5 separate regions of the Homo sapiens genome follow, and all the other regions are reported to be linked to region 3. The links are microRNA targets in miRTarBase. Many come from high-throughput screens and were not tested one by one. Region 3 holds a microRNA gene; each other region holds the end of a gene's coding sequence.

Region 1 (3,000 bases), not on the chromosome of region 3:
GCCAGGCTGGTCTCAAACTCCTGACCTCAGGTGATCCATCTGCCTTGGCCTCCCAAAGTGCTGGGACTGCAGGTGTGAGCCACTGCGCCCGGCCTATTGTGACATATTGTGATATTTCTTTCTTTTTTGTGTGACAGTGTCTCACTCTGTTGCAGGCTGGAGTACAGTGGCACAATTTCGGCTCACCTCCACCTCCACTTCCTGGGTTCAAGCAATTCTCATGCCTCAGCCTCCCAAGTAACTGGGACTACAGGCGTGTACCACTACACCCGGCTAATTTTTTATAATTTCAGTAGAGACGGGGTTTCACCATGTTGGCTAGGCTGGTCTCGAACTCCTGACCTCAGGTGATCCGCCCACCTTGGCCTCCCAAAATGCTGGGATTACAGGTGTGAGCCACTGCGCCCGGCCTATTGTGATATTTCTTTACTTAATAACTAGCAGATGAATCTCTTAACAGTATTCTGTTTTCCTCTAAGCATGCATAAAAAGTGGTCAAATAAGTCCATGATGACTCATCACCTTTTCCCTGCAAGGAGTGTACTGTAGATTACCAAACCTGCAGAAGCCGTCTGTGTGGAGACAGGAGGAGGACAAACCAGGCTTGCTCTGCTTCACACCCAGAGACCTGGAGCCACAGCATGTGGAAATTGCTTTCATGACCTTTTATACCCCCTGCTGATAAAGCAATTAGAAAACTGAAGAGTTTCACGGTGGTGAGATAGAATTTCACAATACTGAGTGAGATATTAGCAATGGACTCTCCGTATGTCCCTATGGTCTACAAGCTTAATATGTATCTTTAAACAAACACATAAAAAAATTCATTAACTGGAGAAACAAGATTGTGGCCATAGTCAACACTCTATAATGTCACCATCTTCACCACTATCTCTGCTTAAAATTCTGCCGTACTATCTTCAGAATAAGGATAATGAATTGGAAATACGACCATTTCTTTTCATTGCCCTTGATGGTTACCTTTTTAAAAAAAAAAAAAAAAAAGTAGGGTCTTACTCTATCATCCAGGCTGGAGTATGGTGGCATGATCAGCCTTGAGCTCCTGGGCTCAAGTGATACTCTCGCCTTAGCCTCCAGAGTAGCTAGGATTATAGGTCAGTGCCACCATGCCTGGCTAACTTAAATTTTTTTTTTGTAGAGACAGGGTCTTGCTATGTTGCCTAAGCTGACAATTACTTTATTTAAAAGCTTTTTTTTCTGGCCAGGGGTGGTGGCTCACACCTGTAATCCCAGCACTTTGGGAGGCTGAGGTGGGTGGATCACCTGAGGTCAGGAGTTTGAGACCAGCCTGGCCAATGTGACAAAACCCTGTCTCTACTAAAAATACAAAAATTAGCCGGGCATGGTGGCACGTGCCTGTAATCCCAGCTGCTCAGGAGGCTGAAACAGGAGAATCGCTTGAACCTGGGAGGTGGGGGTTGCAGTGAGCCGAGAATGTGCCACTGCACTCCAGACTAGGTGACAGAGTGAGACTCTGTCTCAAAAAAACAAAACAAAACTTTTTTTTTTTCTTGAGATACGGAGTCTAGCTCTGTCACCCAGGCTGGAGTGCAGTGGTGCGCTCTCAGCTCACTGCAACCTCTGCCTACCGAGTAGCTGGGATTACAGGCACCCGCCATCATGCCCAGCTAATTTTTGTATTTTTAGTAGAGACGGGGTTTCACCATATTGGCCAGGTTGGTCTTGAACTCCTGACCTCATGTGATCCGCCTGCATCGGCCTCCAAAGTGCTGGGATCAAAGGTGTGAGCCACTGTCGTGCCTGTCCTTTTTTTTTTTTTTTTTGAGACAGAGTGTCACTCTGTCACCCAGGCTGGAGTACAGTGGCATAATCTCGGCTCACTGCAACTTCTGCCTCCCCGGTTCAAGCAATTCTCCTGCCTCAGCCTCCCGAGTAGCTGGGACTACAGGCTCCTGCCACCACGCCCAGCTAGTTTTTTGTACTTTTAGTAAAAACACGTTTCACTGTGTTAGCCAGGATGGTCTCGATCTCCTGACCTCGTGATCCACCCGCCTCGGCCTCCCAAAGTGCTGGGATTACAAGCGTGAGCCAACACGCTCGGCCTGGCTTTTTTTTTTTTTAACATGTTCCATATGGGGCAGGGCTAAATGTTAGGCAGTGCGCCCATAGTCACTGCCAATTACTTTTTTTTTTTTTTTTTTTGAGACGGAGTCTCGCTCTGTTGCCCAGGCTGGAGTGCAGTGGCGCAATCTCAGCTCACTGCAAGCTCTGCCTCCCAGGTTCATGCCATTCTCCTGCCTCAGCCTCCCAAGTAGCTGGGATTACAGGCGCCCGCCACCATGGCTGGCTAATTTTTTTTGTATTTTTAGTAGAGACAGGGTTTCACCATGTTAGCCAGGATGGTCTCGATCTCCTGACTTCACGATCCGCCCCCCTCGGCCTCCCAGTGCTGGGATTACAGGCGTGAGCCACTGCGCCTGGCCAATCACTGCCAATTACTTTTGAACAGAGAACATCATATGTAATTAGAGGAGGCGGGATATTGTTGGTGCAGCTATATCATTCAAAATTGGCAGAAGTCCTGAAGCTGGTGGGGCTAAAAAAAAAATTGGTGGAACGGCGTATGTTGAGACCTGGAATAGCTTCTCTGGAAGGTGCTCTAAGGCAGGGGGTAGAGTAGTACATAGGTAGTCAAATGATGAGGCTGAGGGTGTCTACCAATAACACAACGCCACAGAGCTTCCTTGGCACACTTCCCGCTGCTGCTATGTGGGATCCTGTCTGGCTCGCTTAGGATTCTGCAGGTCACCAGGTGGTGAGGCCTTGCTTGCTGAGATGCTCCGGAGAGAATGCAAGCTCTGCGTCTGCTGCAGGCGCAGGGCGAGCTCCCGCTCACAGGCCTCCTGAACAGTCTCCGTCTTCTTTATGTCCCAGTTCAAGGCAACAGCCAGTGCTTTGGGGTCTTCCTTGGTAACCAACTGCAGCAAGAATAAAAACCCCTGAGAACTGGGCCTTCTG
Region 2 (3,000 bases), not on the chromosome of region 3:
CAGTGCCTGGAAGTCCAAGGACATCCTGGTGGACCTGGGCCACTTGGAGGGTGCGGACGCCGGCGAAGAAGACCTGGAACAGCAGTTCCACTACCACCTGCGCGGGCTGCACACTGTGCTCTCGAAACTCACGCGCAAAGCCAACATCCTCACTAACAGATACAAGCAGGAGATCGGCTTCGGCAATTGGGGCCACTGAGGCGTGGCGCCCGTGGCTGCCCAGCACCTTCTTCGACCCATCTCACCCTCTCTCATTCCTCAAAGCTTTTTTTTTTTTTCCTGGCTGGGGGGCGGGAAGGGCAGACTGCAAACTGGGGGGCTGCGTACGTGCAGGAGGCGCGGTGGGGCTGCGTGGAGGAGGGGGCCACGTGTGAGAGAGAAGAAAATGGTGGCCGGAGATGGGAGGGCCCAAGGAACCTCCTGGGAGGGGGCCTGCATTCTATGTTGGTGGGAATGGGACTGGGCTGACGCCCTGCATTCAGCCTGTGCCTTTCCTGGGGTTTCTTTTCTGTTCTTTTCGGAGGAGAGGGCCCGAGAAGGGGCCATACCAGGGCGCGGCGCTGGGTTGCCACACTTGGGAAAGCAGCCCGGAGCTGGGTGCTGGGGAAGGCGGGGCGCGTAGCCTCCCGCCGCCCTGCGGTTGGGCCGGTGGAGGCCCAGGCGTTGCTAGGATTGCATCAGTTTTCCTGTTTGCACTATTTCTTTTTGTAACATTGGCCCTGTGTGAAGTATTTCGAATCTCCTCCTTGCTCTGAAACTTCAGCGATTCCATTGTGATAAGCGCACAAACAGCACTGTCTGTCGGTAATCGGTACTACTTTATTAATGATTTTCTGTTACACTGTATAGTAGTCCTATGGCACCCCCACCCCATCCCTTTCGTGCCACTCCCGTCCCCACCCCCACCCCAGTGTGTATAAGCTGGCATTTCGCCAGCTTGTACGTAGCTTGCCACTCAGTGAAAATAATAACATTATTATGAGAAAGTGGACTTAACCGAAATGGAACCAACTGACATTCTATCGTGTTGTACATAGAATGATGAAGGGTTCCACTGTTGTTGTATGTCTTAAATTTATTTAAAACTTTTTTTAATCCAGATGTAGACTATATTCTAAAAAATAAAAAAGCAAATGTGTCAACTAAATTGGACAAGCGTCTGGTCCTCATTAATCTGCCAATGAATGGTTTCGTCATTAAATAAAAATCAATTTAATTGATTTACTAGCAAAAGTAAATTTTGTGTTCTCTCTGGTATTTCATGGTGGTGGATATTCATCTGTGCAAGTATTTAGCTTTGTTTGGGAACTAGGTACTGACAAAATTTACTTCCAAACTTTATTTCTAATTCAGTACCAAGATAAGACCATACATCTCAACAAAAAGTTCAGAAATATTTAAAATATTTGGGAAGGTACATATATTGTATCTTTCAACCAATTTGGCTAACTTATTGGAGTGCGTAATTAACATTTTGAATTTTTTAAGAAGCTCAAGCACAAGCTAAAGTGTTTTGAGGCATAAAAACAAGGCTGAAATTTCACTTGGTTACTGAGAAGTGAAAATTAGAAGGGAAGACCAGCTAATCCTAGTGCACACACCTTACAGGTTTTTATGTTTATCTGAGTAGACATTTAAATGCATTACAACATGATCGATGACTTCTTTCACTAGTTCCAAAAAGGGCTAAGCTTTGTTGAGCGGCGTCCAGTAATGCTTCCAGTTTTTCAGTGAGCCAGTCTGCAATTGTGGACAGCAGTTCTGATCAAGGCTGCTGTGGAGCCCTTGGGAATGCTTAGGTGCCATTATGATGCTCTGCTGGGATGGTGGGAAAGGTAAAAGAATGTGCTCTGCATATTCTTTATTTCATTATTTGTTTTGGGGTATAAATGTCAGATCAACTTGTTGAAGTCATGAGGCATTCTCTAAGCTCGTAGGGCTTGAATTTAAAATACATATAAGTTAGCGGTCTTAAAAAACAAGCAAAATGTTTTGTGGTGCTGGCGGGCAGGGGCAGTTCAAGTCTATCAGCTTTTAGCAGCAGTGAAAAAAAATGTGGAAGTGTCAAGATGGGTGCTTGCCAGTTGCCAGAGAAAGTTAATCTTTAATTTGTATAAAGATAAGCTAGGCAGCACCAAAAGTAAGGCATACAGCCTCTTGTCTCGTGTCCCCTTTAAAATATCAAAGTGCAAGCAAAAAATAAAGGAAACTGAAAAAAAGAAAAAAGCTGCATGGTAGAAACACAAAGACTTTCAAAGACTTTGGAGCCAGAAACTGTGCAAATCCTCTTGCTACTAATTGTGTGCATTTAACTTCATGCCTGTTGCCACATTAGTAATCAGGCATAAAAATAACTACACTGCTTCATGGAGTTGCAGTGAGAATTAAATGAGATTATATATAAAGTGTTTGAGGCTTAAAATTTTCTTTAGGCACTGCTGAAATGCTTTACAAGTTTCTCTCTTTTTTGATGTTTACAGTGATTACATTTATCTAAGCAACTTTCATACATGTTCAGTTTTAACATATTGACTACTCTGACAAATATGCTTAAAAAAAGCAATAACATTATAGAGTTAATGCAGAGTCCTAAGGATAGTCTAGTAGCCACTAAGTTTTTTCTTAAGTCTTCACTTTAGATGCTGTTATTTCTAGCACAAGCAAGCAGAGTCTTTCATATGCTTACACCCTGGAGTCTTTGGTTGCTACCATTATCAGCTGGCTTGCAAACCAGAAGCCAACCATTTTAGGAATGCTTTAAGTGAACAACATGCAAACCCCAGGGATGGAAAAAACCCTAAGAATGCCCAATTATGAGCATTTACAACCATCACAACTGTGGCTGAAGACTATGCCCTTCTGAAATGAGATCTTAAAGCAGTATAGTTTGAAACAAAAGGTTTTAGCAAAAAAATGACATATGCACAATTTCTCCACCACTTTGTGTGAGTCAACCATTTAGTTAACTTTTCCACTTGAAAAAATGCAATAGAAAACCGG
Region 3 (4,599 bases):
TTTTTTATTTTTTCTGGAGAAAGGGTCTCGGCTGGGTGTGATGGCACATGCCTATAATCCCAGCAGTCTGAAAGGCCGAGGTGGGGCCGGGCGCGGTGGCTCACGCCTGTAATCCCAGCACTTTGGGAGGCCGAGGCAGGTGGATCACGAGGTCAGGAGTTTGAGACCAGCCTGGCCAACATGGTGAAACCCCATCTCTACTAAAAATAAAAAAATTAGCCAGGCGCAGTGGTAGGCGCCTGTAGTCCCAGCTACTCGGGAGGCTGAGGCAGGAGAATCGCTTGAACCTGGGAGGTGGAGGCTGCAGTGAGCCGAGATCGTGCCACTGCACTCTAGACAGAGCGAGACTCCATCTCAAAAAAAAAAAAAAAAAAAGAAAGGCCAAGGTGGCAGGATCACTTGAGCCCAGGAGTTTGAGACCAGTCGGGGCAACATAGCAAAACTCTATCTCTACAAATACAAAAAAATTAGCCAAGAATGGTGGTGTGCATCTCTAGTTCCAGCTGTTCATGAGGCAGAGGCAGGAGGATTGCTTGAGCCCAGGGGGGTCAAGGCTACAGTGAGGCAAGATCACGCCACTGCACTCCAGCCTGGGCAACAGAGCAAGACACTGTCTCAAAAAAAAGACACGGCCTCTACATCACCCCAGGCTTGAGCGCAGTGGTGCCATCACAGCTCACTGCAGCCCTGAACTCCTGGGCCCAAGAGATCCTCCCGTCTCAGACTCTTGAGTAGCTAGGATTACAGGTGTGCACCACCAATGCCAGCTAATTTTTCAATTTTTTGTAGCGACAACGTCTTGCTATGTTGCCCAGGCTAGTCTCAAACTCCTGGGCTCAAGCAATCCTCCAGCCTCACCTGCCAAAGCGCTGGGATTACAGGCAGGACTTGTTTTTTGGAGTGATAAAAAATAATCTAAATTCAACAAGATGATAAACGCTTTGAATACCCTAAAAGCGCTGAATCGTAAGCTTCGGTGGGTGAGTGGTATGCTGTGCAATTTACATCTCAGTAAAGCTGCTACAAAAGAGAGAAAAGAGAGAAGCATAAGCAGAGCTGAGTCTACCCAACGGGCAGCTGCCAGGGCTTGGCAGTGTGGCCCTGGGCCATGCCTCAGGGTCCTCACAGGGACAGGCCCCAGCCTGGGTGAGCCCAGAGCCATCTCTGCTCTGTAAGCCTGTGCGCCTCTGAGGCAGAAGTTGGCATTGGGAAGGACATGTTGCTCCCAGTGGCCTCGGATATCTGAGGCTCTTGACAAACACCCACTCTACACTAGGCCCTGTGCTGGGCACCAGGACAGAGATGGAGACCCAAGCTGGAGAAACACATGGACATGGGGTCCCCCAGAGCTAAAGGGGAGGATGTGAGGGCGCTTGAAAGCAAGGCTGCTGGACGGACACTTAGAAGGACAGCAAGGGGTTCAATCAGGCAGGAGACAGGGAAAAAGCTGCCAGGCCCAGCAATAGCACAGGCCAGGGTGGGCAGGGACGGATGTGGGGCCAGCGCTTGGACAGGCGATGAGGAGGGCCCCTCCCTGCAAGGCATTATGTGCCAAGTTCCTGGGTCATGAAAAAAACCTTTCCAGCACTTTCGGAGGCCACAGTGGGAGAATCACTTGAGTCAAGTTTCTTTCCTTTTCTCAAAGGGCATGGATACACCTGGTTCTCAATGCTCTCTTTTCTCACCAATTTCTTTTCTTTCTTTTTTTTTTTTTGAGACAGGGTCTCACTGTGTCACCCAGGCTGGAGTGCAGTGGTGTGATCATGACTCACTATAGCCTTGACCTCCCGGCTCAAGCAATCCTCCTACCTGAGCTTCCCAAGTAGCTGGGACTACAGGTGTGCAACACCACACTCAGCTAAGTTTTTACGTAGAGACGGGGTGTTACTATGTTGCCCAAGCTGGTCTCAAACTCATGGGCTCAAGTAATCCTCCCACCTCGCCCTCCCAAAGTGCTGGAATTACAGGCGTGAGCCACTGCGTCCAGCCCCAATTCCTCTTTTAAAAGTGGGGAAGTGGGCATGGGGAAGGAACTCTAAGGGGAATCCGCAGGGGCATCGGCAGCACTCACATTCTCATCCTTCGACGGGTGGATCTGCTCAATCAGCCGCTGGACGATCTTCTCCTCGTTGAGCCACTGAGGGTGAGAAGGCGAGGGATGCATCGCTGTCCACCACGCCCAGCCCCCCACCCCCAGAGGAGCCGGCCCTGCTCACATTGACAACATCCTGCCTCAGCTGAGGCCGCTCCACACAGGTGAGCAGGCGCAGCAGGAGGTCCATGATGGCCGAGGTGCCAATGTGCTGCAGCAGCAGGTCCACGAAGTCATCCTTCTTCCGAAGAAAGGACACGAGCTGGGGGCACACGGGCTGCGTCATGCACAGGGCCTGGCCCAGCCACCACCCCTCAACCCACGGTGGCGCCAGGGTGGGGGCCAGGGCACCTGGTCTGTCTTGCGGTTGATGAGGATGCCCATGACCTTGCTGAAGAAGCTGGCCAGCAGTGGGTTGAGGCTGCCGGTGCTCTGCAGGAAGCCGTAGAGCCGGTTCAGAAGGGACTCATCAGCACCCAGGGCATCATTGATCTGGGGCACATCTGAGGTCAGAATCTCGCAGGCCACACTGGGGTACCTGGGAGGCAAGCACAGGCGGGTGGGGGCTCGGGTCGGAGGCCGGGGGCAGGGGGCGGCAAGGCTCCACCCTCTTCTCTGCACCGGGCACTGGGTTTCTGGGAACTGCAGAGACCCCTGTCCAGGAAGGGGAAAGGGCAGAGGACAGGGTGACGCAGAAACAAGGGCCCACACCAGGCCTCCTCCACCCTGCTAACACCCAACCATCCCATCCTAGGCTCCTTACCACCCCCAAGACAAGCTGGTCCTGAAGCTCCTGCGCTTCCCAATCCCCCAGCAGCTAACACTCATCCCTTTTGCCTCTCAGCGGCTTCACTTGCAACCCCGTATGCTGCCCCAGCTCCGGCTGACTCCTGGAACCTTGCTCAACTTCCAACCTCACCTCCTGCCTCCCTCCTCCAAACTTTCACACGGTGCCTGACGGCTCCAAGACAAGAGCTGCCCCACCAGCGTGCCACTCAAGGCCCTGAGGGGCCACAGTCTGCTCCAGGACTGTGGGGAGGTACCCCTTGGGAGGCTGAGGCAGGCATATCACTTGAGGTCAGAAGTTCAAGACCAGCCTGGGCAACATGGCGAAACCCTGTCTCTACCAAAAATACAAAAATTAGCTGGGCGTGCTGGCTTATAGTCCCAGCTACTTAGGAGGGTGAGGCAGGAGAATCACTTGAACTTGGGAGGAGGAGGTTGCAGTGAGCCGATCATGCCTCTGCACTCCAACCTGGTGATAAAGTGAGTCTCAAAAAAAAAAAAAAAAGTGTCTTTTCAGCATCGCTTGGATTAAAAAATAAGTAAAGTGTCTTCAATAGCAGACAAGTGTTTCACAAACATACAAAAAAAGTTTAATAAAAAGTAAATAAAATAAAAGGCGGCGAATAAAGAGAAAAACCAGCCGGGCATGTCGTCACATGCCTGTGGTCCCAGCTACTCGGGCAACTGAGGCGGGAGGATCACCTGGGCCCGTGAATTTGTGGCTGCCGTGACCCGTGACTGTGCCACTGCCCTCCAGAGCACAGGCTTGGTCTGCACCCGGTGAGCTGTGAGGCCTTGTGCAGGAGCCTGGCTGCTCCCAGCCTCGTCTTCCTCATCCCCAAACTGGAGTTTACTGACACTGACGCATTTCAGGGTAGCTGTGAGGCTTGCGTAGTGAAGGTATGTGTGATGCTGATAGGGACGGGCTGGCCAGGAGCTGGGGAACTCACTTGTAGCGCAGCCGCTCCTCACCGCTATCTGGCGGCTCCTGGGTGACCCAGGCCACCATTGCTTGCAGGTGGGGTGGCTGCAGCAGGAAGTCCAGCAGCTTGCGGTTGACGACCTTGCACTCCTGCAGCACGTCTTCCTCGTCCAGCAGCTCGGGCAGGCTCAGGTCCTCCCGCTCCAGCAGCGTGTCCAGGTGCGAGCTTGTGTGCAGGTCAAACTTCCAAAACATGGCGCCCTGCAGGCATAGACACAACCAGCGCCGCGTCAGACGCCCCAGGGAGTCCCCACTGGACGAGGCACTGACCACAGGGGCTGAGTGCCCACCTTGGGCACAGCCTCTCCCCAAGTCCCAGCCCTCTGCCTCATGCTGAGCCCGGCCCCGCCCCGGGACTGCCCGCAGGCTCACTGCCTCCATCACTCAGGCTTAAGGCTCCCAGTGAGCACCAGGCTCCTGCAGTTGCCCTCGAGCCTGCCCCTCTTCCCCCATCTCCAGCCTCCCGGCCGCCTCGCCTGAGGTCCAGGGGGTCATTTCACACCTGAGGCCTCAGGCCTGGTGAAGTCCCCAGGTGTGGACCATGTGCAGGGCCTGCGAGAAGAGGCTGGACCCTGTGCACTGAGGGGCCTCGGGCCCTGTCTCCCCATGAGGGTCTGGGTCCACTATCCCTACTTTTGGGAGAGACACTGCAGAGGCAGGGCCTTAACCTCTGGCTTCAAATTTGCTTCAACCTGTATTTGCTCAACAAACTCAGATGCCCGATGACTTCCAGCACACG
Region 4 (3,000 bases), not on the chromosome of region 3:
GACCTCGTGATCTCCCTGCCTCGGCTTCCCAAAGTGCTGGGATTACAGGTGTGAGCCACTGTGCCTGGCCTGAAATATAATCTTTAGCTATAGAGCAGTCCCCTAGTAGAGTTGTTTATGAGATTTTTTTTTTCCTTTAGGGTCAAACAACTGTTCTGCCGAGAGTAAGTTGGGACTTTTGTTTTTCTTTCTTTAGGACTATTAGAAGACACATTAGTGCAGAAGCTTCCAGGCTGTAGAGCCCTGCTTCCCTTCTCTGACCTCACAAAGATAAACATCCTTCACCTGAGTTCGTGGCCATCCACCTCTGCTCTCCCAGACCCAGTGCCTGTGACTTTGAGTAGTTTGTTCTAAATGTGGTGACAAACAAGTCATTTCTGTAAGACATTGGGTCTTACTTTATGTCATTTTTAGTAACAGAACTGCAGGAAGATGAAGACAATGTTGTAATCCCAGCAAGTTGCTAACTGTGCGTTTCTCCCTTCTTAGAATGAATGTCTCCCCCAAAACTGGCTGGCACCAGCTTCATCTGTGATACCCTTCAAGAAATGTTCTCTGGTTTTGTTTTATGCTGAAAGTAGAACACAAGTCACATTTCAGATGGAGGCTGTAAATATCTGGCATTTTCTTATATTGTTTTATGTTTTCTTGTTTTTCTCTTGTTGTTTTTATCTTATTTTCTTTGGGGTTTTTTTGTAATGCCTTTGTACAGCTCATACTTTCCTGCTGACATATCTGATCATCTCTTTCATGCAGTTGCCAATATTCATAACTGAAAATAATCTGGTTTATCATAAGTAAAATGGGAAACTTGCCTCTGTTTTTTGCAAGGGGAGGTAAAGAGTGTTTAGTAATTACCTATCTTAAATCTTTCTGAGTTGGTAGTAGATTCATGTTCAAGGAACAGGAAAAATGGAAAAACATAAGTTTAAATCAGTTCTTTTTAAATAACTTTTTATTCTTTTGTATAAATAAAATTTCACAGGCTTCAAATTCTCATGCTTTACTTTTAAACCCGAGATTGTTTTTTCACTTATTTATTCATATCATGCCTTATGGAAATTTCTTTTTCTGTATTTTCTCTCTTTGCTGGTATTCACCTGATTAAATATTGCTCTAAAAATCACCATGGCATATGGAAAGTCTCAAAATTATACCAAAAGTGATAACTTATGTCGTTCTTAAGTGGAGTGAAAGGATAGCATCAGTGAGAGCCAGTGTTGCCCACCAGGTCTCCCTTTCTTGGAGGGCTTGTTGGGGCTGAGGAATCTGCTAGTAATCGTTACCTGCCTCTAGTGCTGTGGTGAACTTGCGACAGGGTCTGGCTGCACATTGGAATCACCTGAGAAGCTTTAAAATACTCATGCCTGGATCCCATCCCTAGAGACTGGGGTACAGCCTAGTTATTGGGAATTTCTTTAAAAGAGTTCCTGGGATTCTGATAAGAAGCCAGGTTGAGAACCACTACATTAGAAGACTGAATGGTTTAATTTACATCCTATGTTATGATTGGTCTAAGGGATAAGATTTGGGGTCTAACCTTTCCTTTCACTCTAGTTAGTCATAGTCCTTGACTTATGCCTATATCTTTGTAAGAAATAGTATGTTTCATTTGTGATAGTATTGGTAGGGCTGAATATGGATGGCATCTACTGTAAAACAAGTCTACCTTGTCAGATGTGCAAAAGCTTTCACTCTTGTTCTCAAATAAACTTTTGTGGGTTTTTTTTTTTTTTTTTTTTTGACTCTGGCTATTTAGATCTTTGACTGTGTCTTTGGTAGCAGAACTCCAGTGTCAGGATTTTTAAGGAAATAGTTTCTTATATTTAGATTATTCCTTAAAAAAAAAAATCCTAGAAGCATTCTGTATTTTTTGTCTGTTGGTCTCCTTTGCTGGGAGGGAGGAGTGGGATGCCTACAGTTTCCTTCCTTTTGGGGAAAGCACACAGCAGACCTTAAAATATTTTTGACTCTTGGGCTGGGTGCGGTGGCTCACACCTGTAATCCCAGCACTTTGGGAGGCCGAAGCGGGCGGATCACGAGGTCAGGAGATCGAGACCATCCTGGCGAACACAGTGAAACCCCATCTCTACTAAAAATGCAAAAAATTAGCTGAGCGTGGTGGCGGGTGCCGGTAGTCCCAGCTACTCGGGAGGCTGAGGCAGGAGAATGGCATGAACCTGGGAGGCGGAGCTTACAGTGAGCTGAGATAGTGCCACTGCACTCCAGCCTGGGCGACAGAGCGAGACTCCATCTCAAAAAAAAAAAATATTTTTGACTCTTAACAGTTTGAGATTGCTAGAGATGGAATAGTACTGCTCTGTTGCGCCACTGCACTCCAGCAGCCTGGGCGACAGAGCGAGACTCTGTCAAAAAAAAAAAAAAAAAGAAAGAATAGTACTGCTCTTAAAAAGATTATTTACGTATTTATGAAACTGCAGTGGGATGCCTAGTTTCCTTCCCTCTGAGGAAAGCACACAGCAGACCTTAAAATATTTTTGACTCTCATAGTTTGACATTGCTGGAGACAGAATAGTACTGCTCTTAAAAAGATTATTTAAGTATTTATATATTTTATTTATTTATTTATTTATTTATTTATTTATTGACAGGATCTTGCTCTGTCACCCAGGCTGGAGTGCAGCGGCCTGATCAAAGCTCAGTGCAGCCTCGAACTTCTGGGGTCAAGCCATCTTCCTGCTTCAGCCTTACTAGTACCTGGGACTATAGGTGCATGCCACCATTCCCAGCTAATTTAAAACATTTTTATTTTGTAATGATGGCTTCTTGCTATGTTGCCCAGGCTGGCCTCAAGCAGTCCTCCTGGCCTCAAGCAGTCCTTCTGCCTTGGCCTCCCAAAGTGCTGGGATTATAGGTATCAAGCAATTCTCCTGCCTCAGCCTCCCCAGTAGCTGGGACTACAGGCATGCACCACCATGCCCATCTAAGTTTTGTATTTTTAGTGGAGATGGGGTTTTGCCATGATGGGCAGGCTGGTCT
Region 5 (3,000 bases), not on the chromosome of region 3:
GCCGCGGCCCAGTCAGCCTGGAGCCCAGAGCTGTGGAAGGAGGCGAGGAGGCCACGGCTAATTTGTACACTAAATGCTTCTGACAGCGATGCCTCATAAGTGAGAACTTGCCACTGCCCACCCCGGGAAGGCTGTGGCCAGCAGCGCCAACAAGAGGGGCCAGGAGAGGGCACCGTGGGGGCACAGGGCTGGGACAGACCAGATACACCAGAGAGATGGTGCTGTTGGTGGGGGTGAGACCCAGGAGGAGATGCGGGGGAGGGGAGAGGCCTGCACAGAGAAGGGAGGGGAGGGCTGGGCGGGGGCCGGGCAGTGACAGTGGGAAGGAGTCAGCCCCGACAGCTGCCACCAAGGTCTGCCCCGCGCCAGGGCTGTGTGTCCTGCCCAGCCAATCCTCCCTGCTGCCTGCAGGACGCTCGCATCTTTTCCCCTTACCTGCTGCCAGCCGCCTCCTCCAGGCCTCCGCAGCAGCCCCTCACGTGGCCCCGGCCCAACACCTGGCAGGGTCTGTGCTGTGGGACCCTGAGTCCTCTGCAGACGCCCCCCCTTTCCCTCATCACCTCCCTGTGGGAGCTGCTCCCGGGGGCTTTCAAGTGGAGAGGAGGCTGCTGGCTGGGCTAGTGGGGACTCTGGGCAGCTGAGGGGGTGGGCACGGACCCCTTGCCTGCTGTGCGGGACTCCTGCAAGAAGGAGGGTCCTTCTTGTGGGCCTCTGTCCTGGGCCACCCCAGGACTGGGGTGGCAGAAGCCAGAGAGGTGGGTGGTGGTGGGGGTGGGGCCAGGGACAGAGGAGCAGGGTCTCGGGAGGAACGGGGGTCCCAGATACCCCAGGACTAGACAGAGCCAGCTCTGTGCCAAACAGGAGCGGGCACGAGCCCGGCCCCCACCCACAGGAGGAGTGTGACGTGGCGCAGTCGCGGAGCAGCAGGGCCGGCGTCCGCGGGCACCGAGGTGAGATGTGTTCTGGCAGCTCCCCGCCGCCCGAGGCCCGCCCGGAGCGAACACTGCTGGTGGCTTTAATTGCTTTCACATTCGATACGCTGCCCGTGACAGCCTCTTACCCCGCGCCGGCCGCACCCCAGCCCCCAACTCCGTCCAGGGAGACAGCAGAGCCTCCGAGCGGGCGCTTTGCTCAGCAGCACCCGTGTGGGGGCAGAGGCCACCCTGGGACGAGGCTGGGAGGGGACAGGAAACTTTTCTCCCCACGCGCCCCCTCACTCCATCTGCTCCTGCCGGGTGACTGATGGGTTCAGACAGAGCCCCCCGTGCGGATGCCTCGCTGGAAGAAGCTGCATGCGCTGCTGTCCCGTCTGCCCAGTCCTTCCCGGCCCTGGGGCTGCGGCCGCAGGGTCTGACCCCTGCCCCCGCCCAGTCACTCCGTCCTTCCTGGCTGCGTCCATTTGGCAGGGCCGGCTGCCCCTTACAAGCTTGTGAGTCACCCCACCACGGCCATCTCCAGGGGCCCCCACCCGTCCGCCTGCCCGGGATGCCTGGGCAGGGCCTACCCCTCAGACCTGCAACCTCCCCGCCCTTCCACAGGGCCCTGCGCGGGGCAACAGCAGGAGGAGGAGGCGTGATTACAAAACAAAACGCTTTTATTTGGTCCATTGGAGCCTGAGTCGGAAGCCACTGTGGAGAATCCTATGGTAAAGGAACGGGACTGACAATTGATAAAATAGTCTCTGTGTCACAAGAGCTGGCCGTATTTACAGGGTTAAAAATATTCACAGCTCAGAGTACAGGGAGGCCAAAGGGGAGTGGGAATGTTTCTCCAGGTGAAAAGGCCCCGGAAGCCCCTGCCGGGGTAGGAGGGGGAGTGGGGGCGAGGCCGGCCCGCTGCCGGGAGTGAGGGGCCAGGAGGGCACGCAGAAAGCTGGGCTCAGACGTCCACACACTCCTGGGCTTCTGTGGGGAGGTGGGAGCGGCTGAGCCCTGCCCGTGCCCACGATGTGCTGGGGTCCCTCTCTGGCAGGGCCGGGCCGAGGGACAGGGTTGGCTGAGGAGCCTGCTGGTCCCAGTGTGCCCGGCAGCAGTGAGCGGTGCTGAGAACTGGTGCCCACCCACAGCGGGCCTGGCGCCCGCCTGCACCCAGTCATGGCTTCGATCCTGGCGGGCACTCCAGGATTTGCATAGTGTCGCTGGGGGGCTGGCCAAGGGCCCCTTCTTCTGAGACAGGCACCGCCCCGGGACTCGCCGCTCCACACCAGGGCTCCAGGGACCCCGCCTGCCCTGTGGGGGACAGGGACCCGGGCTCTGGGGGAAAACTGACCTTATGCCCCGTGAGGGGTGGTCCCTGATCCCACCCCAGGGTCTTGGCCTCTGACACCCAGATTTGGTTTTGCGGACAGAGCTCCTGGCTGCCTAGCCCGCAGGAGACCCTGAGCCCACAGGGAGGGGCAGCCTGGCCTCGGCCCCCGTCGGGTGTTGGGGCTGGCAGGTGAGCGGGGCTGGTTCACAGCCCGCCTGGTTCGAGGTATTCTGCGTGGCGGCCAGGAGGCCTGGCCAGGCGGACTGTGGGGTTCAGGGAGGGGAAGGAGGGGGGCGGGGGGCCCATGGGAAGCTGAGCCCTGGGCTGGCAGCTCCCTGGGCGGGGTCCTGAGATTCTGGCTCAAGCGTCCTCTGTCGGGGTCTCCCTCATAAAGTGCGTGTGGGGGTGGGGGGTCCGTCTGTGCACAGCCCCTGCCCCAGGCATGGTGGTCACAGCGGTCGGGGCCCATGCAGACCGGCGACCTCTGGCGTGAGTGGGGGGCTGTGGGTCCCCTTGGAGGCTGTCCAGTCACTGAGGAAGGCCTGGGCTGCCTTGCGATGTGCCAGGCGGTGGGTGATAGAGAAGCCGGCGTTGCCCTCTAGCTGGGACAAGATCACCAGGACCTGCCTGGGGGAGGGGACCGGTGAGGACCTGTGGAGGGCAGGGTGGGGATGGGGGCAGGGCTGTGCCCACCTGTACAGGGGCAGGAGCAGGAGTGGGGTGACAAACACCCGTACAGGGGTGGGGGCAGGG

Evidence for each region. The annotated mature microRNA hsa-miR-6803-5p reads CUGGGGGUGGGGGGCUGGGCGU and lies in region 3 at 2,176-2,197, opposite strand. An mRNA with a match to its seed (bases 2 to 7 or 8) in the 3' UTR can be bound and repressed. Matches are read on the target gene's strand: a 7mer-m8 pairs with bases 2 to 8, a 7mer-A1 pairs with bases 2 to 7 and ends in A, and an 8mer does both.
Region 1: the mRNA of DFFA is a reported target of hsa-miR-6803-5p. Seed matches in the 3' UTR shown: 7mer-m8 at 1,434-1,440.
Region 2: the mRNA of MID1IP1 is a reported target of hsa-miR-6803-5p. Seed matches in the 3' UTR shown: 7mer-m8 at 862-868 and 7mer-m8 at 899-905.
Region 4: miRTarBase lists MEAF6 as a target of hsa-miR-6803-5p. Seed matches in the 3' UTR shown: 7mer-A1 at 501-507.
Region 5: the mRNA of CAPN15 is a reported target of hsa-miR-6803-5p. Seed matches in the 3' UTR shown: 7mer-m8 at 2,648-2,654.

Annotation. Positions count from the first base shown.
Region 1 is chr1:10,458,743-10,461,742 of GRCh38, forward strand. It overlaps DFFA (DNA fragmentation factor subunit alpha), which reads right to left. Exons shown (of 6, transcript NM_004401.3): 6 at 1-2,960. The coding sequence ends at 2,748. Among named protein-coding and RNA genes, the nearest start is that of CORT, 10 kb to the left of the region's middle.
Region 2 is chrX:38,805,300-38,808,299 of GRCh38, forward strand. MID1IP1 (MID1 interacting protein 1) reads left to right here. Exons shown (of 3, transcript NM_021242.6): 3 at 1-1,233. The coding sequence ends at 199. Among named protein-coding and RNA genes, the nearest start is that of MID1IP1-AS1, 2.9 kb to the left of the region's middle.
Region 3 is chr19:55,243,049-55,247,647 of GRCh38, forward strand. It overlaps MIR6803 (microRNA 6803), which reads right to left and starts at 2,202; the gene lies at 2,138-2,202. PPP6R1 (protein phosphatase 6 regulatory subunit 1) reads right to left here. Exons shown (of 24, transcript NM_014931.4): 2 at 3,829-4,061; 3 at 2,444-2,630; 4 at 2,217-2,354; 5 at 2,072-2,137. The coding sequence starts at 4,055.
Region 4 is chr1:37,491,304-37,494,303 of GRCh38, reverse strand. It overlaps MEAF6 (MYST/Esa1 associated factor 6), which reads left to right. Exons shown (of 7, transcript NM_001270875.3): 7 at 197-3,000. The coding sequence ends at 205. Among named protein-coding and RNA genes, the nearest start is that of MIR5581, 8.2 kb to the left of the region's middle.
Region 5 is chr16:553,213-556,212 of GRCh38, reverse strand. CAPN15 (calpain 15) reads right to left here. Exons shown (of 14, transcript NM_005632.3): 14 at 1,577-2,874. The coding sequence ends at 2,697. Among named protein-coding and RNA genes, the nearest start is that of PRR35, 5.7 kb to the left of the region's middle.